3 separate regions of the Homo sapiens genome follow, and all the other regions are linked to region 2. Evidence: fine-mapped expression QTL. A gene starts in region 2. Each other region holds a variant in brackets. All regions are shown on one strand. Distances are from middle to middle.

Evidence for each region. PIP is the estimated chance that this variant, and not a neighbour inherited with it, causes the effect. A credible set is the group of variants that fine-mapping cannot tell apart.
Region 1: its variant is the best candidate, but not a certain one, in a credible set for the expression of GALNS in monocytes after Pam3CSK4 (Quach 2016, PIP 0.78).
Region 3: its variant is the best candidate, but not a certain one, in a credible set for the expression of GALNS in monocytes (Fairfax 2014, PIP 0.58).

The regions. Positions count from the first base shown.
Region 1 is chr16:89,068,172-89,078,883 of GRCh38, reverse strand. It overlaps LOC105371412 (a long non-coding RNA gene), which reads right to left and starts at 7,845. Exons shown (of 3, transcript XR_933889.3): 1 at 7,111-7,845; 2 at 6,688-6,770; 3 at 2,907-5,524. The variant CAAAAAAAA/A (reference allele first, on the strand shown) is at 5,698.
Region 2 is chr16:88,851,997-88,861,938 of GRCh38, reverse strand. It overlaps GALNS (galactosamine (N-acetyl)-6-sulfatase), which reads left to right and starts at 4,992. Exons shown (of 14, transcript NM_000512.5): 1 at 4,992-5,181. The coding sequence starts at 5,062. TRAPPC2L (trafficking protein particle complex subunit 2L) reads right to left here and starts at 4,812. Exons shown (of 5, transcript NM_001318525.2): 1 at 4,756-4,812; 2 at 3,148-3,320; 3 at 2,189-2,276; 4 at 1,967-2,046; 5 at 1-1,025. The coding sequence starts at 4,788. The coding sequence ends at 980. It overlaps LOC107983950 (a long non-coding RNA gene), which reads left to right and starts at 5,359. Exons shown (of 2, transcript XR_933884.3): 1 at 5,359-5,488; 2 at 5,638-6,811. RefSeq lists silencers at 4,860-5,259, 6,929-6,998.
Region 3 is chr16:88,817,747-88,826,293 of GRCh38, reverse strand. It overlaps GALNS (galactosamine (N-acetyl)-6-sulfatase), which reads left to right. Exons shown (of 14, transcript NM_000512.5): 11 at 1,425-1,527; 12 at 3,584-3,705; 13 at 8,170-8,287. Among named protein-coding and RNA genes, the nearest start is that of APRT, 10 kb to the right of the region's middle. RefSeq lists an enhancer at 7,310-8,509. The variant T/C (reference allele first, on the strand shown) is at 4,371.

The sequences.
Region 1 (10,712 bases), 220 kb before region 2:
TTTAAAACTTATGAATTGTTTAGTTTTAGAATTTTCCATTTAATATTTTTGGAGCTCTGTTGACCATGGATAACTGAAACTGCAGAAAAAGGGAAACCCTGGGCCCGGCACACCGGCTCACGCCTGTCATCCCAGCACTGTGGGAGGCTGAGGCAGGCAGATCACCTGAGGTCAGGAGTTTGAAACCCGCCTGGCCAACGTGGAGAAACCCTGTCTCTACTAAAAGTAAAAAAAAAATTAGCCGGGCGTGGTGGTGCATGCCTGTGATCCCAGCTACTCGGGAGGCTGAGGCAGGAAAATCACTTGAACCCGGGAGGCCGAGATTGCACTATTGCACTCCAGCCTGGACAACAGAGCAAGACTCTGTCTCAAAAAAACAAAAAGAAAAACAAACCCTGCTTAAGCGGGGATGTCTGTATTTTCCTGTTTCTTTTTCAGACCTTCATGTCCTTGGAGATACTGTCGGAGCTTCCTGGCAGCGTTGACCAAGCTGCCCCTCCCTTCCTGACAACCTTGGCCTCATCGCTCACCCTCTGGGCTCATCCTGCTGCGGGGTAACCAGGAGAGCCCCGGGGCAGGTGCCAGCCTTCAGGAGGAGCTCTGCCTCCTCTGTTCCAAAATCGGGGGAGGGTCCTTCCCACCAAGGGTGCCAGTCTTCCTTTCATCCAGGGCTCCTGGTGTCTCTGAAAATGCTGGAGATTTCAGTGAAACCCCAGAGGGGGCTCGATCCGACCTGAGGTGAGCCCTGGAGTTTGCCAGGGGTGGCTTATAGAGGCCCTCCGACAATGGAGTTCACCGGGGCGGCTTATAGAGGCCCCCCGACAATGGAGTTCACCGGGGCGGCTCGTAGAGGCCCCCCAGTAATGGAGTTCGCCAGGGGCGGCTCGTAGAGGCCCCCCGACAATGGAGTTCGCCAGGGGCGGCTGGTAGAGGCCCCCCGACAATGGAGTTCGCCAGGGGCGGCTGGTAGAGGCCCCCCGACAATGGAGTTCGCCAGGGGCGGCTGGTAGAGGCCCCCCGACAATGGAGTTCGCCAGGGGCGGCTGGTAGAGGCCCCCCGACAATGGAGTTCGCCAGGGGCGGCTGGTAGAGGCCCCCCGACAATGGAGTTCGCCAGGGGCGGCTCGTAGAGGCCCCCCGACAATGGAGTTCGCCAGGGGCGGCTCGTAGAGGCCCCCCGACAATGGAGTTCGCCAGGGGCGGCTGGTAGAGGCCCCCCGACAATGGAGTTCGCCAGGGGCGGCTCGTAGAGGCCCCCCGACAATGGAGTTCGCCAGGGGCGGCTCGTAGAGGCCCCCCGACAATGGAGTTCGCCAGGGGCGGCTTATAGAGGCCCCCCGACAATGGAGTTCGCCAGGGGCGGCTTATAGAGCTCCCACCCCCACAGCGGTCTTGCCAATGGCTGCGCCCTCTTTCAATTTCCAATGAGGGTCCGAGAGGTGCCGCGGTCACAGTGATGAAGGTGGGACCTGGGACTGGAGCCCAGCAACCTCCTGGACCCAGCCCTGCGAAGTGTCCTTGAGGCAGGAGCTGGGCTGGCTGCATGGGGGCCACCTACAGAGTCATTTCTGGCTGCCTTGCCCCGGGTCCGGGGCCCGACTCCATGAGTGTGGCTGACGGAGGCTCCAGGACGTCCTGCAGGGGGTGCAGACACGCCGGGGGCGCCCATCTCAGCGTCACTGAGTCCTGGGGCCTCTATCCTCCTGGAGAACCCCAGGGAAGCCGAGTGATGCCACACAAGGGCAATGTTGAATTTTGTTACTTTTAAACGTAGTTTATTTGCAAGCATGGACGTTATTATTGGTGACAAGTGACTTGGGAATAGTAGGTGGGAGCCCCTGTGGGCTCCATCCTCTGCTTCTTCTGTTCCTTGGCCGACAGGAGGCCAGCCTCCCTGTGGGCCCGCCCGGGTTTCCTAGGCCTTCCTCCCTGGGTCCCCAAACCCCTGACAAGTCACTCTGGGCTCCAATCCTCAACTGCCAACTTGGAGCTTTGCTTTGGGGACTGAGTTGGCTAACAGCTCGTCGGGAGCCTGGAGACCTGAGGCCATGGGTGTCCCTCCACGGGCTGGGCTGGGAGTGGAGCCTCCTCAGGATGTCTCCTCTGCTCACAGGTAGCACAAGCAGGCCCCAGGGCAATGGTTCACATCTGTGCTTGTATGAGTGTGCACGTGCTCACACAATCAAATGCTCACACACAGACGTGTGCACTCACACACGGATACAGCCAGACACCCATATTCCACATGTGCACACACTCACACAGCCACATATGACACCAACCACATGCCCACACGCAGATATGCATGAGCACACACAGACAGTGGACAGACATGTGCGTGCACAGCCACCTGCCCACACACACACACACATTCACATGCACAGTGAACGCACACCACGTACGCTTGTATGCCTGTGTTCACACACCTATGTACACGAGTACACATGCTCACAATGGACAAAGCCACACACACTAACACATGCAGACACTCACATGCACTCATGCATCCGCTCACAGTGACACATGTCACATGTACACATGTGCACACACACGTGCTCATATGGACACACCCACATACATTCACAGACGTGCTCAGTGTACACACTCGCATGCCTGCACATACACAATGTATGCACACACATGTATACACCCTCACACGGTCACACGTGCACACACGTGCTCATATGGACACACCCGCATACATTCACAGACGTGCTCACAGTATACACACTCACATGCACGCACACAATGTATGCACACACATATACACCCTCACACAGTCACACATGTGCACACACACGTGCTCATATGGACACACCCACATACATTCACAGACGTGCTCACAGTGTACACACTCACATGCGTGCACATACACAATGTATGCACACACACATATACACCCTCACACGGTCACAGGTGCACACACACGTGCTCATATGGACACACCCACATACATTCACAGACGTGCTCAGTGTACACACTCACATGCATTCACATACACAATGTATGCACACACACATATACACCCTCACACGGTCACACGTGCACACACACGTGCTCATAGGGACACACCCGCATACATTCACAGATGTGCTCACAGTGTACACACTCACACGCATGCACACAATGTATGTACACACACATATACACCCTCACACAGTCACACATGTGCACACATTAACACACCCTCGCACTCGCATGCATCAACTCAGCTCTCACCATGAACCCACTGCAGCTGGCAGCACAAAAGGTAAAATTAATCGGCAGCCGGGAGGGTGGGTTGCAGTCACGTGGCCGTCAGCCGCAGACATTGCATTTCAATCAAGGGTGCAGAGTTGTTGGGAGGTGCCCCGGCTGGAGGCCTGTCTTTTGCTCCACTGGGCCCAGCACAACAATGAGCCCAGCAAGAGCGTCAGTGGCGAGGGCGGTGCTCTCACTGGTCTCCTTGGCCTCCTGGCTGCAGCCACACTGGGCCAGACCTTCTTTGTTCAGCAGGCACTGGTGACGCCTTCTCGACGCGGACGTGAGGTGTGTTTACACACTCAGTGACCTGGGCTGGACATAGCTACGGCAGGTACCCGGTAGCAGGGATGAGGCCTCTTGGGCTGGCCGTGACACCCTCCCCTGCAGCTCCAGCTGCCTGCCTGGGAGGAGGGGCTGGCCTGGGTCTGTGACAGCCACCCAGCAGCACTGCAGGGCCATGGGGCTCAGAAAATGCAGAGGCATCCCCCGCCCTGCCCAGGCATAGGATTGGCTGAGGCATCCTGCCTTCAGCCGGGTCCACACGTGACACGTCCACACGTGACAGGCCCACAGACGACAGGACCACACAACAGGTTCACACGTGACAGGTCCACACGTGACTGGTGCATGCATGACAGGTCCACACGTGACAGTCCACACGTGACAGGTCCACATGTGACAGGCCTACAGATGACAGGACCACACGACAGGTCCACACGTGACTGGTGCATGTATGACAGGTCCACACGTGACAGTCCACACGTGACAGATCCACACGTGACAGGCCCACAGACGACAGGACCACACGACAGGTTCACACGTGACAGGTCTACACGTGACTGGTGCATGTATGACAGGTCCACACGTGACAGTCCACACGTGACAGGTCCTCACATGACTGGTCCACACATGACAGGTCCTCACGTGACAGGTCCACACGTGACAGGCCCACAGACGACAGGACCACACGACAGGTCCACACGTGACTGGTGCATGTATGACAGGTCCACACGTGACAGTCCACACGTGACAGATCCACACGTGACAGGCCCACAGACGACAGGACCACACGACAGGTTCACACGTGACAGGTCCACACGTGACTGGTGCATGTATGACAGGTCCACACGTGAGAGTCCATACGTGACAGATCCACACGTGACAGGTCCTCACGTGACAGGTCCACACGTGACAGGCCCACAGATGACAGGACCACACGACAGGTCCACACGTGACTGGTGCATGTATGACAGGTCCACACGTGACAGATCCACACGTGACAGGCCCACAGACGACAGGACCACACGACAGGTTCACACGTGACAGGTCTACACGTGACTGGTGCATGTATGAGAGGTCCACACGTGACAGTCCACACGTGACAGGTCCACACGTGACAGTCCACACATGACAGGTCCTCACGTGACAGGCCCACAGACGACAGGACCACACGACAGATCCTCACGTGACAGGTCCACACGTGACAGGTCCTCACGTGACAGGTCCACACGTGACAGGTCCACACGTGACAGGTCCTCGTGACAGGTTCACATGTGACAGGTCTTCACGTGACAAGTTCACACATGACAGGTCCACACTCAACTGGTGCATGTATGACAGGTCCACACGTGACAGGTCCTCACGTGACTGGTGCATGCATGAGTCGTTCATGACATGGCTCATCCATGACATGACTGGGCCGTGTCAGTCCCAGCTCCCTACGGAATTTCGCTGACTGTGCTGGCTTCCAAGGCCGTGGCGCCTGCTCCCTGCGACACGGCTGCTGTGAGGACTCCTGCACACATACTACTCAGGAAAGGCAGCAACAGGGTGTTGTGAGCACACAGTGTCTGTCTTGGGAAGAAAAACGTAGGTTTTCTGGGAGGGAAATAGGTGGGTGTAGTTGTTTCCCGCATGGGCCGTGACCAAGTGCCACACGTGGGTGTGGAAATGGTGCTGCCGTTCTCCACAGCAGCAGCTCTCATACCCGCTGGCGTCCTGCAACTCGATTCAGTCCCGTCACCACCCGTGTGAAAGATCTCAGCGTGTCACACCCTCTCTAAATAGAAGCTGGAGGCCACGAAGGAGGGGTCCGCACATGTGGGGAGCGCCCGTGAGAAGAACCATGTGAGAGGCCGGGTGCGGCGGCTCAAACCATGTGAAGGCCGGGTGTGGCGGCTCACGTCTGTTATCCCAGCACTTCGGGAGGCTTAGGCAAGTGGATTGCTTGAGCCCAGGAGTTTGAGACCAGCCTGGGTTGGTCCAGGTCGAGACCCCGTCCCTATAAAAAAATTTAAAAATTAGCTGGGCGTGGTGGTGCCCACCTGCAGTCCCAGCTACTCAGAAGGCTAAGGTGGGAGGATTGCTTAAGCCCAGGAGGCAGAGGCTGCAGTGAGCTGAGATCCTTCCACTGCACTGAAGCCGGGGTGACAGAGTGAGACTCTGTATAAAAAA[CAAAAAAAA/A]AAAAAAAAAAAAACGAGATTCCTCGGGGCCACCGCACTCCAGGTAAGTGCCCTGCACAAAGGCAGCTGCCTGACACCTTGACAGCCAGGGAAGGCCACTCCCGATGCGCCTGGCCGTGCAGGACCCGGCTCTGCTGTGCCTCTGAGCCAGCCTGCGCCAGCGTTGTCCTGCACCTCACCTCCTGCTTTGGGAAGCCCAGGAGGACACCCATCGGAAGCCACCACAGTCAGGCTTGGCGCGGGGCGGAGGCTGCGGTGAGGGTCACGACTTCAGCTGACTGGGGGGGCCACACGGAGCCTTGGGCTCTGTGCTTCACCCGCTTTTCTTACTCGTCCTCCCAGCAGCCCTGCGCGCTCAGAAGCCTCAGGGCCTCCACTTCCAAGAGAGGAAATGGGTGCCAGGTTGCCCGGCCCAGGCTCCCGGTGTGACAGACGTCACTTATCATCTGTGATAGTGATAGGGACCACTCTCACCCACCAGCACCCACCCCTGGGCCAAGCACCCAGTCACTTGCAGGTGCAGCTCTCCTGGGTGCCCGGTGACATGGTGGGGAAACAGATTCAGGGAGATTTGCAGACTCGGGGGGGCCCCAGCAGGTGGCCAGGAGGTTGGTGGGTGGAGGGGAGCTGTGTCCGGTCACGGACTGGGCCACCTGCTATCGGTGTAGGGACAGGGCCCACTCCTCCCTCTCCCTGGCTCCCCATGAAACTGGCCCCTGGGAACACCTCTGATCCTTGTGTTTTTATTTAAACGCTCCCCAGAGCACATTTGTCTCGAGTACCAGGGGCATCTGGATTCAATCAAAACGACAGCTGCGCAGTCTGGCCCCGGCCATTCCAGAGTGGGCGTGGAGGCAGCCAGTCTGCTGCAGCACAGCCATCCTTGTACCCCCTCCCCAGGTCCTGCTGGGCCCTTGGTGCCTCGGTGTCCCTTCCTACACGGCTCCCCACTGTCCCCGAGGAGCCAGCCAGCCCCCAGCACCTCCTGTCCTTGTAGACCACAGAGTACGAGGAAAGAAACGCGTAGAGCCAGCTCCGGCCAGCGACAGTTGAGACTGATGGTGCCTGAGTGGGAGAGAGAACAATAAACCCGGAACTGAGGTCTTTTCCGAGACAGCACTGGGCTTAGGGATTTACACAACATGACCCCATTCAACTCCACAAGCCCATAAAGAGGGGCCCTGACTTCCCTGCTTTACAGCTGAGGAAAGTGGAATGGGCAGGTCAGGGTGTGGTGGCCCCAGCTGGGAGCACTTTCCCCTGCCGGCCCAGGAGGTAGGAAGAGAGCGGAGCCAGGAACACCGCAGCAGAGCCCAGGACACCCGTGGGGTCCAGAGTCGGGAAAGGAACCGGGAGGGGGCGGCAGAGGTGCGGAGGGGAGAGGGGTGTTGAGGCCTGGGCTCACTTGCTCTGTGATCTCCAGGAAGGCCCCGGCCTCACTGAAGCTGAGTTTACTCATCTGTAAAATGGGATGAACGTTGGCACCAACCGCATAGGGCAGGAGGATCAAATGAGAAGGTCGGGAGGGATGCAGGCCCCCGCGCAGCCAACGCCGTGTCTGTCTTTCCTCTGTCTCTCGCGGAGGCTGGGTTGGCTGACTGGAGAAGAGAAGCTGGGGAGAGCAGCCGGACCCAGTGCTCACCCGGCTGCCCTGACCTCCAGGAGCATTTCCCGGAGGATACAGGCGACCTCGCTCCTGTTCCATCTGTGGGGACGAGTAAGCAATGTGGTGGTGGCTCTGCCCAGAGTGAGCACTGTCCTGGAAGCCTGCACCCTGAGGCTGGTTCCCGATGGTTCTGCCTTCCCCAAAGCGGCCGTTCCTACCAGGCCGGTTCCCCTGCGGAAGCTCCCAGTGAACACCCGAAGCCTCTGCCACACCCCTCAGTCACAGCCCCCGAGACCGGGTAGGTTTGCCTGTGAGCTGGGCGGGTGCCCCAGGAGGGCAGACCTGGACTCCAGCAGCAGAGGAGAAGAGATGTGGCGCCAGGGGGGCAACCAGTGGAGCCACAGCAGGCAGGCAGATGTTATCCAGAAAAGCAAACCCAGGCAGAGTGGTGGGCAGCATAGCTCAAATCCAGGCTTTTCACCCCAAGTCCAGAATGTTCTGCTTTGAGGCAGAGGGAGCAGGCGAGGCAAGGGTGCTGGCGGGGGCGAGGGTGGCGTTGGGGGGTTGAGGACGGCGGCGGGGGGGTGAGGGCGGCGGCGGAGGGTTGAGGGCGGCGGCGGGGGGGTGAGGGCGGCGGTGGGGGGGCGAGGGCGGCGGCAGAGGGGTGAGAGTAGCTGTGGAGGGTTGAGGGCGGTGGCGGTGGGGGTGAGGGCGGTGGGGGTGGTGAGGGCGGTGGTCAGGGGTGAGGGCGACAGTCGGGGCTGAGGGTGGCAGCAGTCAGTGGTGAGGGCGCTGGTGAGGGCAAGGGTGGTGGTGCGGGGTGAGGGCGGCAGCGGGGGTGGTGAGGGTGCTGGTGGAGGGCAAGGACGGCGGTGGGGGGGGCAAGGGGGGTGGGGGTAAGGGCCATGCCCCTTGCTGCACCGAGGGACCCTGGCACACCTTGGAGGGATCCCCCTCCCACCAGCCAGCAGCACCCCTAGGGTGCCCGGCTGTCCCTGCTTGAGTCCTGTAGACTCTGGCCCATCAGGGGCCACATGTGGCTCTGCTCAGCCTGGGGGACGAGCTCATGGTAGACAGGGAGGGGTACGGGCAAAGACGCCCCCAAACTGCCCGCATGGGGAGAGAGCCTAGCTGGTGGGTGGGATGTGTGGCTGGAAGATGTGGGCTGCAGGCAGGCCCCACTGGTGCAGCTGGAGTTCAGGCTCCCCAGAGCCAGATTCCAGTTGTTGAGTCTCCCCCTGAGACCTTGCTCCATTCCCAGGCAGACCCTCCCACCCTGGCCCACTTATAGATGCCCTTCAAGGTACAGCTTAAATCTCGCCTCCTGCCTCAGACAGCTCGGGCTGCTATAAGAAAGGACCACAGGCTTGAGGGCTTATACACAGCAGACCTCTCTGTCTCACAGTTCTGGAGGCTGGAGTCCAAGATCAAGGTGCTGGCATGGTTAGGTTCTGGTGAGGGCCCGTTTCCAAGCTGCAGATGGCCAGATTCTCGCTGTGTCCTCGCATGACGAAAAGAGGGCTGGTAGCTCTCTCGGCTCCCTTTCATGAGGGGAGCGGTCTCATTCACGAGGGTCCACCCTCATGACTTAATCACCCACCAAAGGCCCCACCTGATACCATCACTCTAGGGATAAGGATTTCAATATATGAATTTGGGGAGGACAGAAACATTCAGTCCACTGCACCTCCTGCATAATTCCAACTCCTTCCAGTGGGGGTGCACCCTGTGCTCTGAACTCAGCCTCTTCCCCCAATTTCGTGAGATACTGTGTGAAGCAGCATGGCTTCATGGAGCAAGACAGCGCAGCAGCTGTGGACGTGGGCTCTGGACATGGGCTCCAACTGGAATGTGTAGCCCCGAGTCCCTGCTCTGCCACTTACTGACTGTGTGGTCTTAAGCAAGTTACTTTCTCTCTGCTTCACTGTCCTCACTCGCAAAATGGACACAGTCATTGGCTTATTGTGAGAATTAAATGAGTTAATATGTATAAACTGTCAAGAACAATGCCACCACAATCATCATCATCACCATCACCACCATCATCATCACCATCATCACCACCACCACCATCATCACCATCATCATTGCCATCATCACCACCACCACCATCATCACCATCACCACTATAATCATTGCTATCATCATCATCATCACTGCCATCAACATCACCACCATCATCATCACCATCATCACCATCACCACCATCATCATCACCATCATCACCACCATCATCATCACCACCATCACCACCATCATCATCATCACCATCACCATCATCATCATCGTCACCATCATCACCACCATCATCATCACCACCATCATCACCATCACCACCATCATCATCATCACCATCATCATTACCATCTCCACCATCATCATCACCGTCATCACCACCATCATCATCACCATCACCACCATCATCATCACCATCACCACCATCATCATCACCACCATCACCACCATCATCATCACCACCATCATCATCACCATCATCACCACCATCATCATCACCACCATCATCATCACCATCATCACCACCATCATCATCATCACCATCATCATCACCATCACCACCATCATCATCACCATCATCACCACCATCATCACCACCATCATCACCACCATCATCATCATCACCATCATCATCACCATCACCACCATCATCATCACCATCACCACCATCATCATCACCACCATCATCATCACCATCATCATCGTCATCATCACCATCATCATCATCGTCACCATCACCACCATCATCATCACCACTATCATCACCACCACCATCACCATCATCACCATCCAGGTTGAATTTCCAGCTCCTTCTCTACTAGCTGCATGGCTTCAGGTGGGCTACTAAACCTTTCAGTACCTCGGTCTCCTCTGTGAGTGGAGGTAACAATGCTTCCACTCCCAGGTACCTCTGAGGATGAACGTGGCTAACCTGTGTCCCTGATACGACAGTGCATGTGGGTAGTCACTTCCTTGCACCAAGAACATGCGCAGAGTATCACCTCATTTGGTCTTCTCAAGGACCTGGGGGGTGGAAGTATTCCTATCCCTATTTTACAGATGGAGAAACAGGCTTGGGTAATGCAGGATTCTGCCAAGGCCTCAGAGAGGTCTGGAGGAGCTTGGAGAATGCCCAGAACCACCTGTGGCTGGACTCTGTCCCTTCCTCTCTTCTCGTCGGACCCACCCCCTCCATCAGCAATTTTCACTTCCAAGCACGCAGCAGAGCCCTTGGGGAGCTGCAGCAATGCTGATGGGATGGGTCTGGCTGGAGCTTGGCTCCAGAACCTCCCCTGGCTTCCCAGGGCCGCTGAGCGAGCTGAGTTGAGACAGAGGCCACCGACCCCTCTCAGAGCCTCCTGCAGTGCCTGGCACTGGGGAACTGT
Region 2 (9,942 bases):
TTCTATAATTTCTAAAATTAACACTGTGCTTGCTAGATGGGATGAAAAGGCAAATATGTATCAAGAAAGTTCCCCTCCCTAGGTCCTGCCCTAGGCTGACCCCCCCTTACAGCCTTTCCTGCTGCAAGGGCTTCTGGGGTCCTCAAGGTCCTTGAGAAACTCTCCAGTCCTGGACCAGTGCTGGAACCAACTCCGGGGGGGTCCCCTCAGCGGGCTGAGCCTTGACCGCTGGACCCCAAGGACGCCGGCGGCACTGACGCCACTATGGGCTCGGCCGCTGCCCTGGGTGGTAGTCAGCCACGTCATCAAGTGACACAGCACCCAACCCCCTCAGCACCAACAGGCAGGAGGGGGTGCCTCAAGTCTGCGCTCCAAGGTTTAGGACCAGGGCTGCAGCTGAGCCAACGCCGCGGGGCCACGAGGCTTCCCAGGTTTCACAAGGGCTCCTTTTAAGGCCGGGCGGAATCCAGACATTGAGCCAGATGCAAAGAATGGAGGCCAAGTCCAGAAAGAGGAGGGCCCTCCCCTGTGGGAAGCCACGCCGGCTCCCCTTGTGCCCCTAGATCCTAGGCTGGTTCTGGGCTCAGGAGGCCACCCCCTCCAGACCAGCCCACCTGTTCAGCCAGTGGGTGACCCACATGGTCACAGGTCCTGCAGGCTCAGGAACTCTTGGCTCCAGGCACCCCTGCCTCTGCCCCTTTGGGACAACTGAGGACAGGCTACCTGCGCCATCTGATCCCAAACCTCTGCCCACACCCCAGAAAAGTCCTTAGTTGAATTCTTCTTAATTAAATCCTTGGCTGACACGGAAGGAAAAAGCCAAATCTCCTCTCACAAGACCTTTAGTTGAGAGAACATGCACAGCTGCCTGCCCTGAAAGCCCCAGGCGTCCCATTCAGGAAGAGGCAACCAGAACAGACCGACGGCCCCACCACAGTCGTGCGCGGGCTCCTCTGCGATGGCTGGCAGCACAGCTCACTCAGCACACCTGTATCATCATCGACGTCACCATGTTATCAAAGGCCCTGCTAAGAGAAACAGACCCACTCAGAGGAGAGCCAGGCCCTCCACCCCTCTGCTCAGAGACGGGCCGGGCAGCATGGCTCCATCCACAGGATGCTCGGGACCTTCTCCAGGGTCCAGAAATGTGAACTCCGCTGAGAGGCCAGGACAGGAGTCCCACCCCACCGGGCACTGAGAACCCATCTGCTGCCTCCAAGTTCCCTGTGCAGCCTCCCAAGGCCCCAGGAAGGGGTGGAGGAGGGAGCAGCATGGGCAGGCAGAGCGGTGGTGTGGCAAGGATGGCCCTGTGCAGCCCAGGAGGCAAGACTGTGGACATTCGCCTGCCTGCTCCCATCTGGGACCAGGATGGCCCCAAGACAGTGTCCTGGTGGAGGGAGGGGCCTGCCTTGGATCACTGCAGCGTCCTCTTCCCTGCCAACCACAGGGAATTATGTCTTGGAACTGGGGACTCACTGAAAGCAAGTCTGGAATGTGGGCATGGACCCCACATTTCCCTCATGATGTTCAAAAGTTAAATCTGTTTACTTTGTGGACTATTCGGAAGACACCTGCAAACCAGGTTCCTGACTGTTCCAAATTCAACATAAAAGATCAGGTAGCTACAAAAGGACGTGTGATCCCTGAAAGCCACTGCCCATGTGCTTGGCCCTGAGTCCTGCAGGTGCCCCAGGTACCCACTGGGCACACCTGGGAAGCCAAATGGGCAAGCTCTACTCCCCACACCACACACACTCTATCCACTTTATGCGCTGGAGATCTGTGTAAGAGTTGGTGTGGAGAAACGGGGCTTTGTGGCTTTAAAACCTCTGCCCTAGGGGGATGGTGCTCATAGCTTAAAAAGATCTTTCCTCCCTTATTTTCCAAATGGTTGCATTTTGGCAACCAAAATGGCAAGGCATGTCCTACAGAAAGAAGGTGGCAAGACACAGAAAGTAGGGCCCACCTGGACTGGATGCGGTCCCCCGGGTTGTAGAAGGGGTTGCACATCACGTCTGTGTAGGAGTTGTGTAGCTTCCGGAACATCTGAAAAAGACCCAGCAAACCATGACCTTGCCACATACACACAGCCACTGCCAGATTTTTAGTTTCTCAGCATTTCAAAACAAAGTCAAAAAGGAAAAACAAAACACCCACTCGGGCGTGGCCCTCTAACTCCCTGACTTACGCTGCGAATTTCGTTGTCTCGAAGGGCTGTGTTGGAGGAATCTACCACCATGACAAACTTCACCTTGGAGTTGGTGACGTAGCCGTATCTGCACAGCTGGTTAGGGAAGGCACTCGTAACACAGGGACTGCCGGTGGAGGGCCCTCTGTGGGCCCTCACTTTGGAGAAATGTGGCAACCTTGAATCACAGGAAATGCCCATGCTGGGCTGGTCCTGCAGTGGCCGTGCTGGGTACAAGCCTAAATACTTTGCTAGGGCGACGTCTGGTGTTTGCAGGAGAAGCGAAGAGCAGGCAGCCAAGCCTTACCCAGTTCACACTCCAGGAGCCGAACCACCTAGACTCCGAGTCTGTCTGTCTGGAACACCTCACCCTCTTCATGAATCAATGCCTGGCCCGGAAAGTTAACTGCAAAACCAGAGGCTTCGTGAACAAGGCGGATCCCCTCTCTAGAGGCCACATTATTTTGTAAAATAGTGGCTACTAGCAAATGTCACCATGGACAGGCTACATGATGACTTTTGGGAAGGTCTTTGAATTCCATGGCCTCAAGTGATTTGTCCCAAGGGACTAGACGAGTGTCTAGTGACATAAGAGGCAAGGCCTAATGAAATAAATGAAACTATTATCCCCTGCTCAAAGGTGGTGGCTCCCCCTGAAAAGCACAGAAAGAAATCCTTGCAGGTACAAAGCAGAAGTGTCCCACTTCCTCTGCAAACCAGACAACGGACACGTGCAAACCAAAACATTCTACGGGGAATTCTAGCCTTGCTTTTCCCAAATGGCTCTTCCAATGAAAGAGAAGAGTTACAGGCCTTCATTCACCTCAAGCTACCCTAATTCCCTGGCTGGCTAAAAACTCTCACCTCTTTTTCTTCTAAAAGGTTTCAAGTTATCTGATCCTAAAGTACATCTTGCAACTGTAGGTCCTCCCTGACACACACCCTGCCCTGAAAGATACACCTTGTAGTCCTCCGTGGGGTAGAGCAGGCCCAGGTACAGCTCCCTCTGGTCGACCAGGGCCTTCCCCATTGCGGAGATCTTCTCATCCACCACGTCCAGAGATGTGTGCACCATGTAGTGGAACTTCAGCTCGTTCTCCGTAGGGGTGCTGCGAATGTAGAGGGGGTAATTCTGCAAGAAAGGATGACGGCGACTGAAAGGACAAGACTCCACCCAGCGCACACCAGCTCTGAACTATGCTGCAGAGCCGTGACCTGCAGCCACCCGGGGAACGCATTCCCATGCTCTAAGGCCCACCGCTTCATTCTCTATGCCGCAGTGGGCACTGCCTTCAGGGGATCCCAGCTAACCTAAGGAGATTTATGTGTTGTTTGCAAAGCAGCAGCAGTAGGGTGGGCGGAAAAGAAAAAATGAATCAGAAAAATGGGCCTGAGCACAGCCTGCCGATCAAGCCTGGCACCTGGGCACGCCTCTCACCTTCTCCTGGAGGCCACTCTGCCTCAGCCCACCTCTAACTCTGCATGGCTCACCCAAATACAGCACCCTCAATACTGGCTTTTCTTCACCTTGACAGTGACCCTTTTACTAAACCCTTCAAGACTCAGCTCAAATTCCCTTCATCTCTGCATTTCTGACCATTGGAAGCCCAGAATTAACAGCTTCTTTCTCGGTCTTTCACACACCACCATTTACCCTGTGTGTGTTCAGCACTGGGTCCTGCACAAATACAGTGAACAAGAGTCCTCGCTACCCTCGTGGGGAGTGATACCTAGTCAATAAACCCACAAACAAGCAAATGATCATCTTGGCCAAGAGGGAAGCCCATGAGCAGCTTAGCAGCAGCCACCGCCCAGCAGGGAGCGGTCTCGAGTCTGGTCTCGGGAGACCCTGGCTAGGAAATGAAGGCTCCGTGCAGCAGGAGCGTGTGGGCAGCCACCCAGCTCAGTCTTAGCCTTCAGAAAATGCTTTCCAGTTGAAATGTATGTGGGCCAGTAAAGAGGATGGGAGCTGGGGAGAGGTGTTCCGCGTGCAAAGGCCCACAGGTGAGAGGGCAGAGCATGTCCAGGGAGCTGCAGAATTGTTTGGTTGGAGCGGAGAGTGCCAAGGGTTATGGGGGGAAAGGATCCCAGAGCAGGTTATTCAGACAGCATCCTAAGGCAACGAGAAGCCACTGCAGAGGTCTCAGGCAGAGGCGTGACAGGATCCGATTTGTTTTTAACTCGGCTCCGGGGAGACTGGCAGGAGGGCCGGGGCCGCCGTCCGCGGGGAACCAGCGCTGGACGGGAGAACGGGCAGAACCTGCTGAGGACGGAGGACGGAGGTAGTGCCCGGGACCACCTAGGTTTCTGGTGGGTCCTGGCGGGGAGGAGACCTGCTGCGCCGAGGGGTGCGTTCAGCAGCGGGACGGGCGAGCGCGGAACTGGGGTCTCAGTCAGGGTCTGCCTGGCGGCTCGTCCACCGCGAAGCCCCTGACCGCTGGAGCTCGGCGAAGGCCTCCTCCAGGTCCCATTTCCTAAGGTGCCTTCTAAGCCCAGGGAAGAAGTAGAAAGAAAGCGGAGAGCCGAGGATGGTGCGAGCCCGGACGCCCCACGCCGCGCGTACGCACCTCCTTGGCAATCACCGCGATGCACACCGCCATCTTGGGAGGCTCGGCGCCAGGCACCGCGTCACGTGACCCGCCGCTGGTCACGCGGCCTCCAAAGCCCCGCCCCATCCGCACACAGCTGGCTCAGGCCCCGCCCCACTGGTCACGAGGCAGTCCAGGCCCCGCCTCCCGTCCCTCCGCGGACTCTGGCCCCGCCCCGCGAGTCACGTGGCCGTCCAGGCCCCGCCCCGCAGCCCAGCCGGAAGGGCCGGCGGACGCTCGCTAGGTCGGCTCGCTGGCCGGGGCTCCGCGGCTCCCGTGGTTGCCATGGCGGCGGTTGTCGCGGCGACGAGGTGGTGGCAGCTGTTGCTGGTGCTCAGCGCCGCGGGGATGGGGGCCTCGGGCGCCCCGCAGCCCCCCAACATCCTGCTCCTGCTCATGGACGACGTGAGTGCGGGCGGTGGGACGGGGCAGGGCCGGGGTGGGGCGGGGAGGGGAGGGGCGGATGGAGGGAGGAGCGAGGTGGGGGAAGGGCGGGCGGGGTGGGGGGAGAGGTGAGGGGAGGCCCCTTGGGGAAGGGGGGAGGCCCCGCGCGGGGAGGAGGAGGGGGAGGGGACGGGGGGTATCCCCGTGCGGGGAGGGGGAGGCCCCTCGGGGAGTGGCCGCGGGGTCCAGGCGTGGGGTCTCGGCGGTCACCGATCACCACACGCGCTGCCACTGTGCTGCATGACCGGGACAGCGTCCTCCCTGGCAGGTGGGTGGCCGGCGTGCTACCGGGCCCTGCCTCCCCCGTCTGACCTTTCCCGCCCTCTACTCTTGGGAAAGGTGGGCGCGCAGCGTGGCCTCCCCAAAGGGAGGAAGAGGCTGCTCCTGCCGCCCTGCCTGAGAGCTGCGTCGCCCTAGGAATCACTCCCGCCACCTCGGGCCGCCGGGTCCCCCCGCTGGGCTCCAGTCTTACCTGACGGCTGTCTCTGTCCTCTGGAGAATGCTGAGCGAAGGTCAGGTGTCCCTAAGGTCTGAAGAACTGAAAGGCTGGAATGTCTCCTGGTGGGCAAGTGCGGGGTCAGGGGTCACAGCCAGCCTGGAGGCCTCCTTCCCTAACTCCTTGTGGGAGCCACCTGGAGACTCAGGAATGAGCCTGCCTGGGGCATGGGTCACCGTGCAGGACCCCAGACACACCTGGGTTGAAACCCTACTGTCTCCAAGCTTGGGGGTCACTTCCATTCTTGAACCTCAGCTGCCACACCTGGGGGGTTACACCTGTCCCGCCGTGCTCACGTTGTGTGTGAGGACTGGGACGACACCGAGTACCAGACAGTTTTGGGCCGTCGGTGTCGCTCAGCCCCTGTGTGCTGGCTCCGACCAGCAGAGACCCTGACAGGTGCCTTCAGACCCACCTGTGCTGACCAGTGGGGGCCACGGGCCACACCCAAGGGCTGGGCAGTCGTGGCTGTCGGAATTGGAAGGTGCTGGTAGTGTAAAATACACAGATTTAGAAGACTTGGTGAAAGAAAAATAATGTAAAATATCTCACTTAACAATTTTATTAAATTAATGGTTTTTTAACATAAAGATATACTTGAAAAGATAACAGACACCACCCATAATTTCCCCACCCAGGGGTGACAGCCGACAGTCCTGGGCAGCTGCTTTTCCATCTCATATGTCTTATTTGTGTGCAGTGACTGCTTTCCAGAGCACGCTCTCCAGCGCCCAGGGGTCCGTGTCCTGACAGCAGTAGCCGGGCCTTTCTCTGCACTGAGTGGCATCTCCCTCCTAAAGATACTTTGCTTCAGAATTTCATCCTTTCACTTTTGAAGTTCCTCTGGGCCAGTGTAGATACTTTGTTTCAGAATTTCTTCTTTTCATTGTGTAACTCCTTCTGGGCCAGCATAGCTTCGCTGGATGAGCTGGGCTCTGCAGGTGAAGCCTCCCTGTTAAGTTTCTGCTTTTCCTGACTTTCTCAGAGGACAGAGGGGTGAGGCGGGGCAGCTCATGAATAATTTTTTATGTTGAAGACTTGTCGAAATAATATTTTGGTTATGTTGGGTTAAATAAAATATAAAGTTAGTCTGTATTTCACCTACTTCTGCTTTTCTAATGTGGCTCCCGGTAAATAGGGAATTGCATGTGGACTCACCCTACGTTTCCATAGGACAGCAAGGGTTCAGGCCGTGCAGGGTGGAGGGGTGGGGTGTGGCCACCGGGGCACATGTGGGGGAGGGTGACAGGAAGCCCCGCCCACCTGGGCACCTGTTCTGTGGCCTCCACTGTGTGGCTTGTGGGGTCGTTTGGCAGCTGACGCCTAAAGAACCCCAGAGGAGCTGTGTCCTGGCCGGTAGGTGTACTTGTAAGGACTTTCTGATGCAGACAGCAGAAGATGAAGTCAAAGTGACAAGCAACAGTGGGGATTCCCTGGCCCTCCTGAGTCGACAGACCAGGGCCGCCTGGCGAGTTTCCCCTTTCGTGGCTCTGCTGCCTCTGAACTGGCCACATCCTCACTCAGCCTGTGATGGTCCTAGGTGACTCCAAGTCACCCCTGCAGTCAGCAGACCCAGTGGGAGGTTGGCTCTGCCCGTGTCATGTTAGCGTGATGTGGGTCTCAGCCCTGCGCCAAGCACACTGGGGGAGGGGCACATGCTGACCTGTCCAGCCCAGGCCTCGGAGCCTCGGGCCTACCCCAGAAGGGAGACTGCCCCTGATCATCTCATCTGCCTGGACCCAGCAGAGAGGGGGTTCCCTGAAGGGCCCATGGTGCAGCTGCCAGGACAGGGCAGGGATGCTGGCAGGTGAGAGCCACAGAAGCTCACAGTGGAGCCCCGAGGTGCCCTGACGTGGCCCAGGGTGCAAGGGGGTCCTCACAGGCTGTCTTCTCTCCTTGGAGTCCGGGGCTTCCTCCGCAGCCCTGTCCACACCTCTTCCTGCACTGCAGACCGGTTGTTTCTGCCAGGGCGCTGGCGTCTGAACCTGCAACAGGTCATTCGGCCTCTGGCATGACATGGGATGGCTTGATGACCCACAGCTCTGGGCCCAGCACCACTTGAGGACGAGTGTGCATGTCTCAAGTTCAGATTTTGGAGCATGGCCCTCCAGGGACCGGCTGCCTCCAGCCCAGTCTCCCCCTATCCAGTCCTCTGTGGCTGGGCAGTGGGGGGCCTGGGCCCCCCTTTCGTCTAAGCAAGTGCAGTTTCAGAAAAGGGTTGTCCCCAAAACTAGCTTATTGCACCCCTCATGGCCAGAAGCCACTCTCCAACTGGTCACACTGACCCGGGAGAGAACCATTGCCCCCAGAGTCGGGACCAGAAGGGGAAGCTGGGACTCAGGGGTGAGAGCAGCTGGCAAGAGCCCCCACCTGTCCAGGGGGAGCTGAGCCGGGCAAGGACGGGTCTACCTGCACTCCCCAGGGCTGCCCTGCCCTGGCCTTTCACTGACCCACGGTCCAGCGCGGCCTGGCTTCGTAGTACCCTGGGCACCTGCTGCGTGAGTGAGGAAACCTGCGTGGCCCACTCTGCTCTCCAGGGCTTCTGGGGCCTTGGAGACAGGTGAGACCCAGTGACAAGTTCCACTCTGGCCCACACACAGCTCCTGCCTCCCAGGGCGAGCAGCACTCTGTGTCTCCACTCCTTATTTGGAAAATAGGGTTAAGGAGGGTCAGCCCTGACCACAGAGGAAGTGGAGAGTCAGGGCCACCCAGGCCAGCTCCTGTTGCCACAGCAGCCTCGTCGAGCCACCAGAGTCCGGGGAGGGTTGCTCAGTGCCCCTCGTTTGAAACAGACAAGCACTGGCCTGCTCGTCTTCATAATAATCCCATAGCAACCAGTAGGAATGGAAACTGCGTTTCTTAAAACTCTGAAATTCTGAAGGATACTGATCCATGGCTCACAGCTGTGCTCGCTGAACGTGGACAATCATTTGGGGGCTTTTAGGCCTTTTTTTTTTTTTTTTTTTTTTTTGAGATGGAGTCTCACTCTGGTCACCCAGGCTGGATTGCAGTGGTGTGATCTCAGCTCACTGCAACCTCCGTCTCCCAGGTTCAAGCAATTCTCCTGCCTCAGCCTCCCGAGTAGCTGGGACTACAGGCTCCCACCACCGTGCCCAGCTAATTTTTGTATTTCTAGTGGAGACGGGGTTTCACCATATTGGCCAGTCTGGCCTGAAACTCCTGACCTCAGGTGATCTGCCTGCCTCAGCCTCCCAAAGTGCTGGGATTACAGGCATGAGCCACCACACCCAGCCAGGACTTTTTTTTTGAGACAAGGTCTGGCTCTGTCACCCAGGCTGGAGTGCAGTAGCTCGATCACAGCTCACTGCAGCCTCAAACTACTGGGCTCAAGCAATTTTCCTGCCTCAGCCTCCTGAGTAGCTGGGATTATAGCCGCCCATCACCACACTCGGCTAATTAATTTGATCTTCAATCACTGATACCCTTTCTTCCACTAGATCGAATCGGCTACTGAAGCTTGTGCATGCGTCACGTAGTTCTGGTGCCATGGTTTTCAGCTCCATCAGGTCATCTAAGGTCTTCTCTACACTGTTGATTCTAGTTAGCCATTCGTCTCATCTTTTTTCAAGGTTTTTAGCTTCCTTACCATGGATTCAAACATCTTCCTCTAGTTCGGAGAAGTTGGTTATTACCGACTTTCTGAAGCCTACTTCTGTCAGCTCGTCAGAGTCATTCTCTGTCCAGCTTTGTTCCCTTGCTGGCGAGGAGCTGCGATCCTTTGGAGGAGAAGAGGTGCTCTGGTTTTTAGAATTTTCAGCTTTTCTGCTCTGGTTTCTCCCCATCTTTGTGGTTTTATCTGCCTTTGGTCTTTGATGCTGGTGGCCTAAAGATGGGGTTTTGGCGTAGATGTCCTTTTTGTTGATGTTGATGCTATTCCTTTCTGTTTGTTAATTTTCCTTATAAGAGTCAGGTCCCTCAGCTGCAGGTCTGTTGGAGTTTGCTGAAGGTCCACTCCAGACCCTGTTTGCCTGGGTATCACCAGTGGAGGCTGCAGAACAGCAACTATTGCAGAATAGTAAATATTGCTGCCTGATCCTTCTTCTGGAAGCTTTGTCCCAGAGGGGCACCTGCCTGTATGAGGTGTCAGTGGGCCCCTACTGGGAAGTATCTCCCAGTTAGGCTACACGGGGGTCAGGGACCCACTTGAGGAGGCAATGTGTCCGTTCTCAGAGCTCAAACACTGTGCCGGGAGAACCACTGCTCTC
Region 3 (8,547 bases), 35 kb after region 2:
CCCCACCCCTGTTCCCTGCCTGCAGCCCGGGCACATGCCACCCCTGCCTGCCCCACCCCTGTTGCCTGCCTGTACCTGGGCACACGCCGCCCCTGCCCGCCCCACCCCTGTTCCCTGTCTGTAGCCCGGGCACACGCTGCCCCTGTCTGCCCCACCCCTGTTCCCTGCCCAGCCTGGTTTTTGGTGCCTCATGGCTTCCTGTAGCTTCCTTCTTCCTTCCATCCAAGTCGCTGCTCTGCCAAGTCCATGGCCCAGCTCTTACCTTCTGTCCAAATCCTTAGTGTCCAAAGTCCATTTCCTACCCCCTGAGAGCAGCCACCATTCCACTCAAACCACGTTTCCTGGGTGGTCCTGAAGGGATGAGGATTCCAAAGGCTCAACGGGAAGCAAGGTGGGGACGGCCCAAGGCAGCTGCCGCCTCCGGCTATCTGGGGCCGGGTAGAGGGAGTTTTGCTCACTTGTCCCCTCTCGAGACCTGGCACAAGTGGTTGGTCACTGTGGGGAGAGACGGTGCCCAGCTGCGTCCCCCACTCCCCGTTCCTGACTCGCAGGCCCAACATGGTCAGGAGACCCCGTGCCGCCTGCTTATCCTCTTGTCTGCCCACCCTCCCCAGGGTCTGGCCCAGCCTTGCCAAGGACCAGCAATGAGGGGACGCCCAGGCACCCTAGCCCCGGCCGCCCAGGCACCCCAGACACCCAGGCACCCCAGCCCCAGCTGCCCAGGAATCCCAGTCCCGGACACCCAGGCACCCCAGCCCCGGCTGCCCAGAAACCCCAGCCCCAGACATCCAGGCACCCCAGCCCCGGCCGCCCAGACACCCAGGTACCCCAGCCCTGGCCGCCCAGGCACTCCAGCCCTAGACACCCAGGCACCCCAGACACCCAGTCACCCCAGCCCCGGCCACCCAGACACCCAGCCACCCCAGCCCCGGTTGCCCAGACACCCCAGCCCCAGACACCCAGGCACCCCAGATACCCAGTCGCCCCGGCCACCCAGGCACCCCAGCCCCGGCTGCCCAAACACCCAGGCACCCCAGCCCTGGCCACCCAGACACCCCAGCCCCAGACACCCAGGCGCCCCAGACACCCAGGCACCCTAGACACCCAGTCACCCCAGCCCCGGCCGCCCAAACACCCAGTCACCCCAGCCCCGGCCGCCCAGACACCCCAGCCCCAGACACCCAGGCGCCCCAGATACCCAGTCACCCCAGCCCTGGCCACCCAGGAGCTCCAGCCCCGGCCGCCCAGGCACCCCAGCCCCAGCCACCTTGCGGGCCTTTTTACTTTTCAATCATCTTTGTAAAGTATCAACCAAGACCTCACGTGGAGGCATGAGCCACTGATGACAGACGCAGCCCAGAGCCTCCAGGTGGCCCCAGCGTGTCCTTCCTGTCATTACATGGTCCTCCCCTCCCATCCCACAGGCCTATCTTCTATTACCGTGGCGACACGCTGATGGCGGCCACCCTCGGGCAGCACAAGGCTCACTTCTGGACCTGGACCAACTCCTGGGAGAACTTCAGACAGGTACAGGGCTCGGGACGTGGGCGCAGGCGGAGCTGCCCCCATCTCTATCCAGACGTGGCCCCTGAGCACCGTCCTGGGGGAGGCACAGGAGGGTGAGACAGGCAGGAACTCCACCCCCTCCACAGCCTTCTCTGTGTGGCCCCCAGTCGTTCAGCGTGGCCTAGGGCATGGCAGCTGACAGGCTGGAGAGGAGGGAGGGACCTCTTCCTGCCCCGCGTGATGACAGTAGCCCCGCGGCATAGCTACAGGCGTGGCCTAGACCCTGGTCAGGTGGCCCCCATGGGCCTCTCCATCCTGCCAGGGCATCTGAGCCTCCCCCACACCCCAGGCTGGAGGCGACAGAGACGTGGCCTGCTTGGCCCAGGTGCTACATGGGGGCCGCAGCATTGGCATCACCACAGCAACCCCCAGTGTGGGAGGGTGAAACGCCACACGCACAGGGCCTGGGGCTCCTGCCGCCCCAGGCTACCCCAGCATTGTCAGCGCCAGGCTTTCTCCCACGAGCCCTCGCCTCAAGCCTCCTGCTCCCTCCCCACGGTCTTTTCTGGCCCCTGCTGACCCCTACGCTCCAGCATCCCCCAGCCCCTCCTGAGAGGTCTCTCTCAGCCCCACCCACTCCCAGCATCAAAGTCTTGAGATATGAACCCCCTGCTAATCTGCCTTAATTGGGAAGAAAATCATTTAGTGTAATGGAGAGTCTAAAGACTGGAAGTGAGAACTGGGGCTGAGGGCTGAGCACCCAGGCTGAGGAGGGAAGCTGCTCGTGGGGCAGTGTCTGGAGGGCAATGATGCCCAGGAGTGTTTTGGCTCCTCCCCACCCTGTGCAGGCCCCGCACCCGCTCTTCTTTCGGGTTTTACCCAGCACTGTCACCTGCAAGGGCCATCCTGGGCATCGGTCCCCGGCATTGCCGCCTGTGAGGGCCGTCCTGGGCATCGGTCCCCGGCATTGCCGCCTGCGAGGGCCGTCCTGGGCATCGGTCCCCGGGCATTGCCGCCTGCGAGGGCCGTCCTGGGCATCGTTCCCCGGGCATTGCCGCCTGCGAGGGCCGTCCTGGGCATCGGTCCCCGGCATTGCCGCCTGCGAGGGCCGTCCTGGGCATCGGTCCCCGGCATTGCCGCCTGCGAGGGCCGTCCTGGGCATCGGTCCCCGGCATTGCCGCCTGCGAGGGCCGTCCTGGGCATCGGTCCCCGGCATTGCCGCCTGCGAGGGCCGTCCTGGGCATCGGTCCCCGGCATTGCCGCCTGCGAGGGCCGTCCTGGGCATCGGTCCCCGGCATTGCCGCCTGCGAGGGCCGTCCTGGGCACAGTCCTCGGACGAGCCCCTTGGCCTGCAGCACCCGCTCTGGGAATGTTAGAGGCATACCTCGCCTTTCCCGAATCAGGAGGCCCAGGGGCAGCAGAAAGAGAATTGTGGTTACTGTAAAATCCTTGCCCTTCTTGAGTGTGTGAATCTGTGTCAGCTCCCTGGGTCTGTTTTTGTTTTCTGTGTTTTCTCTTGCCTTTCACATGTTGGTCCTGCTCCTCCCTGTCTTAGGGTTTCTGTAGGGATTCTGAGCGTTGTGGCTCTCCCTTCTCCCAGGGCAGGGCCTCCCTTCCCGTCCCTTTCCCTCCCCTCCCTTCCCCAGCAGAGAGTAGGCTGTTAAAAGGGGCTTTCCTCCATGAAATTAGTGGCAGTCCAGATCTGAGGCTGGCTAAGGTGTTTTAAATACACTCACCTGCCTCGCAAAGAAGAGGGGTACATGAAAACAGGGTACGTGAGGCATGCCAGCTACGCATCTCGGGCCCAGAGCGGGTGGCTTCACCTCCTCCACAGGATGCTTATGGGCCCGCTAGTCCTTCAGCGTTTAGCCAGCGCCCTGCACCATGCTGAGTACCAGGGACGCTGCTAGGCACAGGCAGACGAGACCCCCCCACGGCCCCCAGTTAGGGGCTCCAGGACACAGGCAGACAAGGCCCCTCACGGCCGCAGTCAGGGGCTCCAGGACACGGGCAGACGAGGCCCCTCACGGCCGCAGGTCAGGGGCTCCAGGACACACCTTCCCTCTTCTCATTGCAGGGCATTGATTTCTGCCCTGGGCAGAACGTTTCAGGGGTCACAACTCACAATCTGGAAGACCACACGAAGCTGCCCCTGATCTTCCACCTGGGACGGGACCCAGGGGAGAGGTTCCCCCTCAGGTGAGTCGGTGCAGGGCCTCCTGGCTGCTGAGGCAGTGCCAGCCGGACTCCCCCAAATGCAGGCTCCACAGGGACAGAGCCCTCTGCACCCTGCCCGCCGCCTCCCCTTGCCTGCATCTGCTGTTGCTATTCATACCCACACGTGCTTGGTGGCCTGCCCTCCTCCCAGGGTGCCTGCTGCTGCCCACCCTGGTGGTCTCCCCACTTCTGCCCCTTCTGGGCCACCATCCACCTGGCCCCCAGTGATGTATCCCCTACTCTGAGCTGCATTTGGGGATGGCTGAGGCCAGAGGGGAGGGGTCCAGGCCCTGGGGCAAGTAGGAGGTACAAGGACACAGGTCAGCTAGCAGGAGGAATGGCAGAAAGCCACCAGCCCCAGCTCCACCCTCTGCTCTCTGGGCCTTGTCCTCACCCCACCGAGGATGCCGGAGTCTGCGCCATCACCTGCCAGTTTTCAGGGAAGCCCTCCCCTTACCCTCAGGAGTCTTGAGGGTCATGGTCGCCAGTACCAGACTCACCTGCTGGCAGCTCCTTAGGGGCGACACAGAGGCCCCAACACTTGGCTGGAGACCCCGCCCTGGCTTCCTTTTTTTTTGTCCGAACCCATCTCCCTGGGCTAGGGCTACCTGGAGGCTTCCCCCCCTCACCCCAGCAGGATGAGCAGG[T/C]CCCCAATTCCTGCTCCTGGCCTGGGGGTCCTGGGGCACGTGCATGCCTAGTGGTCTCCAGCATTCCTGCCCTATCGAGTTGGTCCTGGGAAGACCCAGGAGCATCAGGGGAGTGGCGTGCAGAGGCAGAACCAGGCCTGAGCACAGCGGTTGCTCCCTGCCCAGGCTTTCTATGCTCCCCGATGGGCCTGGGTTTGAGTAGGGCCGGTGGGAGGCAGCAGAGAGCAGTACAGGACCGAGGGTGGCAGCACCACCGCCAAGGTGCCCTGAGGCTCCTGCACCCTCTGGACGGGGCAGCCGCCTTCCCACGGGGCTGAGCCTGCGGTGAGGCTCCTGGGCTGCAGCCCCTCAGGGATCCCTTGGGCACTTCCTCGGCAGCACCTCTCCTCCACCGAGCGTCCAGCTCAGAAGCCCAGGATGGTGACTGCGGGAAGGCAGCATGGAGCCTGGAGTGGACAGCAGTGTCCCCAGGCCCAGGTCCACCCACACCTCCCAGCTTGGCCTGAAGGGAAGTAGGGCCTGTGCCTTGTGATTAAGGCACGGGTGGCGCTGGGTCCAAGGCCAAATGCCCTGAGTCCAGAGGGAGGAGACACAGACATGGTGAAGGCCACGGGACGAGACGGGGACTGGACAGAGCGCCACCAGCCTCGGCTCACCTGGGGCCACTGGAGCTGGAAGAGGCAGGAAGGAGCCCCAGTTCCTCCAGGGGTGCACAGCCCTGAGACCCTTGGTTTCAGCCTCTGGCCTCTGGAAAAGTGAGGGGCATCTGCAGTTTCATTGTTTTAAGCCCCAGTTCATGGTCATATGTTGTGGGGGTGCCGAGATACAGAGACAGACGCCCCCGGGGGACTCGTGATCACCCATGGGGGTGAGACCCGTGAAACCATGGGGGGCCTGGAGCTTGGGGCCTTGTGGAGCTGGAGGGGCTGTCTGGGAGCCCCCTGTGCCCGCAGAAGTCACTGAGGAGCCAACAGCCCCCCCAGCTGGAAGCGCCGTCCCAGGGGGACCACGGGGAGCAGATTGCAGGCCCCAGTTACACAGAACAAGCTGCTGGCCACACCGGTGCCCGCCACACCCCCCACAGGCTGGTCGCTCCAGGGACCACCCGAGGTTAAAGCCTGGATGGCGGTGCCCCCTCGCGTCCACTGGGCGTGATTGGCATCCACAGGGGGGTCCTCAGGGCCACTGCTCCCCGCCTGTTGCGTTTGCTGGAGCCCCTCCAGCCAGGCCAGAGCAGAGACACAGTCCCACCCACCACAGCCACCCAGCCCCGCCCTCACAGCTGGAGAAGGCAGGGTTATTTCAAAGCAAACCCAGGCAGCAGGCAGAGCTTCCCAGAGGGGGTCACAAGGAGGCCCAGCTGTCGGCCATGCCTTTGAGAACCACTGTCCCTGAGGTCACACACCCATGACACAGCCTGATTCACCGTGGGCTGCTTCTCAGACACAGACACACATGTCACTTTGCCAGGAGCCTCTCTAAATTAAAGACGGGTGGCCGGTCGCCATGGTTCATGCCTGTAATCCCAGCACTTTGGGAGGCTGAGGTGAGTGGATCACCTGAGGTCAGGAGTTTGAGACCAGCCTGGCCTACATGGTGAAATCCCATCTCTACCAAAATACAAAAAATTAGCTGGATGTGTTGGTCGGTGCCTGTAATCCCAGCTACTCGAGAAGGTGAGGCGGGAGAATTGCTTGAACCCAGGAGGCGGAGGTTGCAGTGAGCTGAGATCGCACCACTGCACTCCAGCCTGGGTGACAGAGCAAGACTCCGTCTAAAGAAAAAAAGACGACGGGGCCAGGCATGGTCACTCACACCTGTGATCCCAGCACTTTGGGAGGCCGAGGTAGGAGGATCTCTTGAGCCCCAGGAGTTTGAGACCAGCCTGGTCAACACAGCAAGACCTTACTGGTACAGAAAATAAAAAATTAAGGCCGGGCACAGTGGCTCACACCTGTAATCCCAGCACTTTGGGAGGCCGAGGCAGGCAGATCATGAGGTCAGGAGTTCGAGACCAGCCTGACCAACATGGTGAAACCCCGTCTCTACTAAAAATATAAAAATTAGCCAGGCGTGGTGGCGGGCGCCTGTACTCCCAGCTACTCAGGAGGCTGAGGCAGGAGAATCGCTTGAACCAGGGAGGCGGAGGTTGCAGTGAGCTGAGATCATGCCATTGCACTCCAGCCTAGGTGACAGCGCGAGACTCTCTCTCAAAAAATAATAATTAAAATTAGCCAGGCACAGTGATCTATGGTCCCAGCTACTCAAGAGACTGAGGCAGGAAGATCGCTTGAGCCTGGAAGGTCAAGGCTGCAGTGAGCTGCTGTCTCACCACTCCAGCCTGGGTAACAGAGCAAGATCCTGTCTCTAAAAAATAAATGAAATAAACAAGATTAAAGCAACAAGCCAGGCCACGGCCTTCGGGGACGCTCACCGTCAGAAAGTGCACGTGCAGTTCACGCCAGTTCTCAACCAGCAGTATTTGGCCACAGAATCCTGCAGAAACACAAATGCACCTGAGACCCTCCTGGATTAAAAATGGACCCTGTGCTCAGGGGCGCTGTGTGAAGCCCAGGCTGGGACCAGGACAGGCATCTCCGCGGGCACCAAGCGGGGAGCCCTGAAGGACCCCAGCTCTCCTGAAGGTCGCCCTCTGATGCAACCCCAGGCCTGAGGCCTAAGCAGGGAGTGGGTGGATCGAGCAGAAAGAGGCTGGGGCAGGTGGCCGGGGGTGGGGAGGGGGGCGCATCCCCGTCCCTGTTGCATGCAGCTTCCGTGTGAAGCCTCATTTTTAGGGAAGGTTCTGGAGCAAAAAGCCAGTTCTCACAGACTGCTGAGCGTCCAAGGCAGAAGACTGGGCTTCAGTGGGTCCGGGCTCACCTCCCAGAAGGTACTGGGCCTGGACAGGTGCTGCCATCAGGAGGGGAGCTGACTCACCTGGTAACCCCGTCTCTAGCTTTGTAAGGAGCTGCCACACCACCTTCCAGAGTGGCTGCTCCGGTCCACGTCCCCACCAGCAGCAACGCAGCTCCCAGCCTGGGCATTGAGAAACTCCAGCTTCAGCCACACTCGCAGAAGTTCCTCCCTGCATCTCCGCTATGGCAGCGATGGCAGGTGTCTTTTTATGTGGATGTTGTCGATATTAGAAGTGATTGAAAATGGTGAAAAGGCATCATCTGTGCAGATGTCCTCAGAGCACAGCATGACGGCGCCGTGGACCCAAGATTCACAGCATCGCAAACTGCGGCCCTGACATCGCGAACCGTGGCACCTCGTCGAGCCGTGTAATCGTATCTTCGTGAAGATGAAAGGAATCCAAACACTCCGCAGCTTGCATTGGAATTTTAGAACTGCAGATGCCGTTCCCCTCCATTTCCTGCTTTTTGGCAATGGGATGACGTTGCTTTTGTAATGAAAGAAGGGTGTGTCATATTTGTAAATGTTTACGTAGTAGTGAGTGCTGGGGAGACCCACAGGCCCCAGCCCACATATCCCGGGTCCTGGTCACAGGCAGGGACAGGATGGGACGGCTCTACTCACAGCCTCTCTGCCAGGGCTTGGCCTGCTGAGCCTTCATTTCCTCTCTTGCCCGTGAGTCTGAGGGCAGAGGATGGCTCGGGTGCCTGCTGCCTGTCCTAGCGAGGCCCGGGGCCGCTGCAGGCTTGAGCACATGGTCCCAGTGACTGCTCACTGTGGTTCTCAGCCCGTTAGAGCTCTGCAGCCTCAGCCTGTCCAGGCCAGCCCCTCTCCGTCCTTCGCTGTCAGCCCCAGCCGTGTGACCAGAGCTCTCTGTCCCCAGCTTTGCCAGCGCCGAGTACCAGGAGGCCCTCAGCAGGATCACCTCGGTCGTCCAGCAGCACCAGGAGGCCTTGGTCCCCGCGCAGCCCCAGCTCAACGTGTGCAACTGGGCGGTCATGGTAAGTGGCTGGTGTGTGGGCGGCCGTCTCTTTGCCGGGGCTGCAGCCACCCACCCGGGGCCCAGGATGAACCGTGGCCAGCACAGGGCAGAGGCAGGCGTGCTTCCCCGCCTCCGTCAGTGGTGAGGCCCTCGTGCCTCAGAGCACACGCGGCGGCGTCCGGGATTCGGGAGGCAGGAGCCAAGCGACTCGGGGACCAGAACAACGCTGCACCAGGGCAGCCGCAGGTCCACAGCCGGCCACCCGGGCCTCTGCCTGGC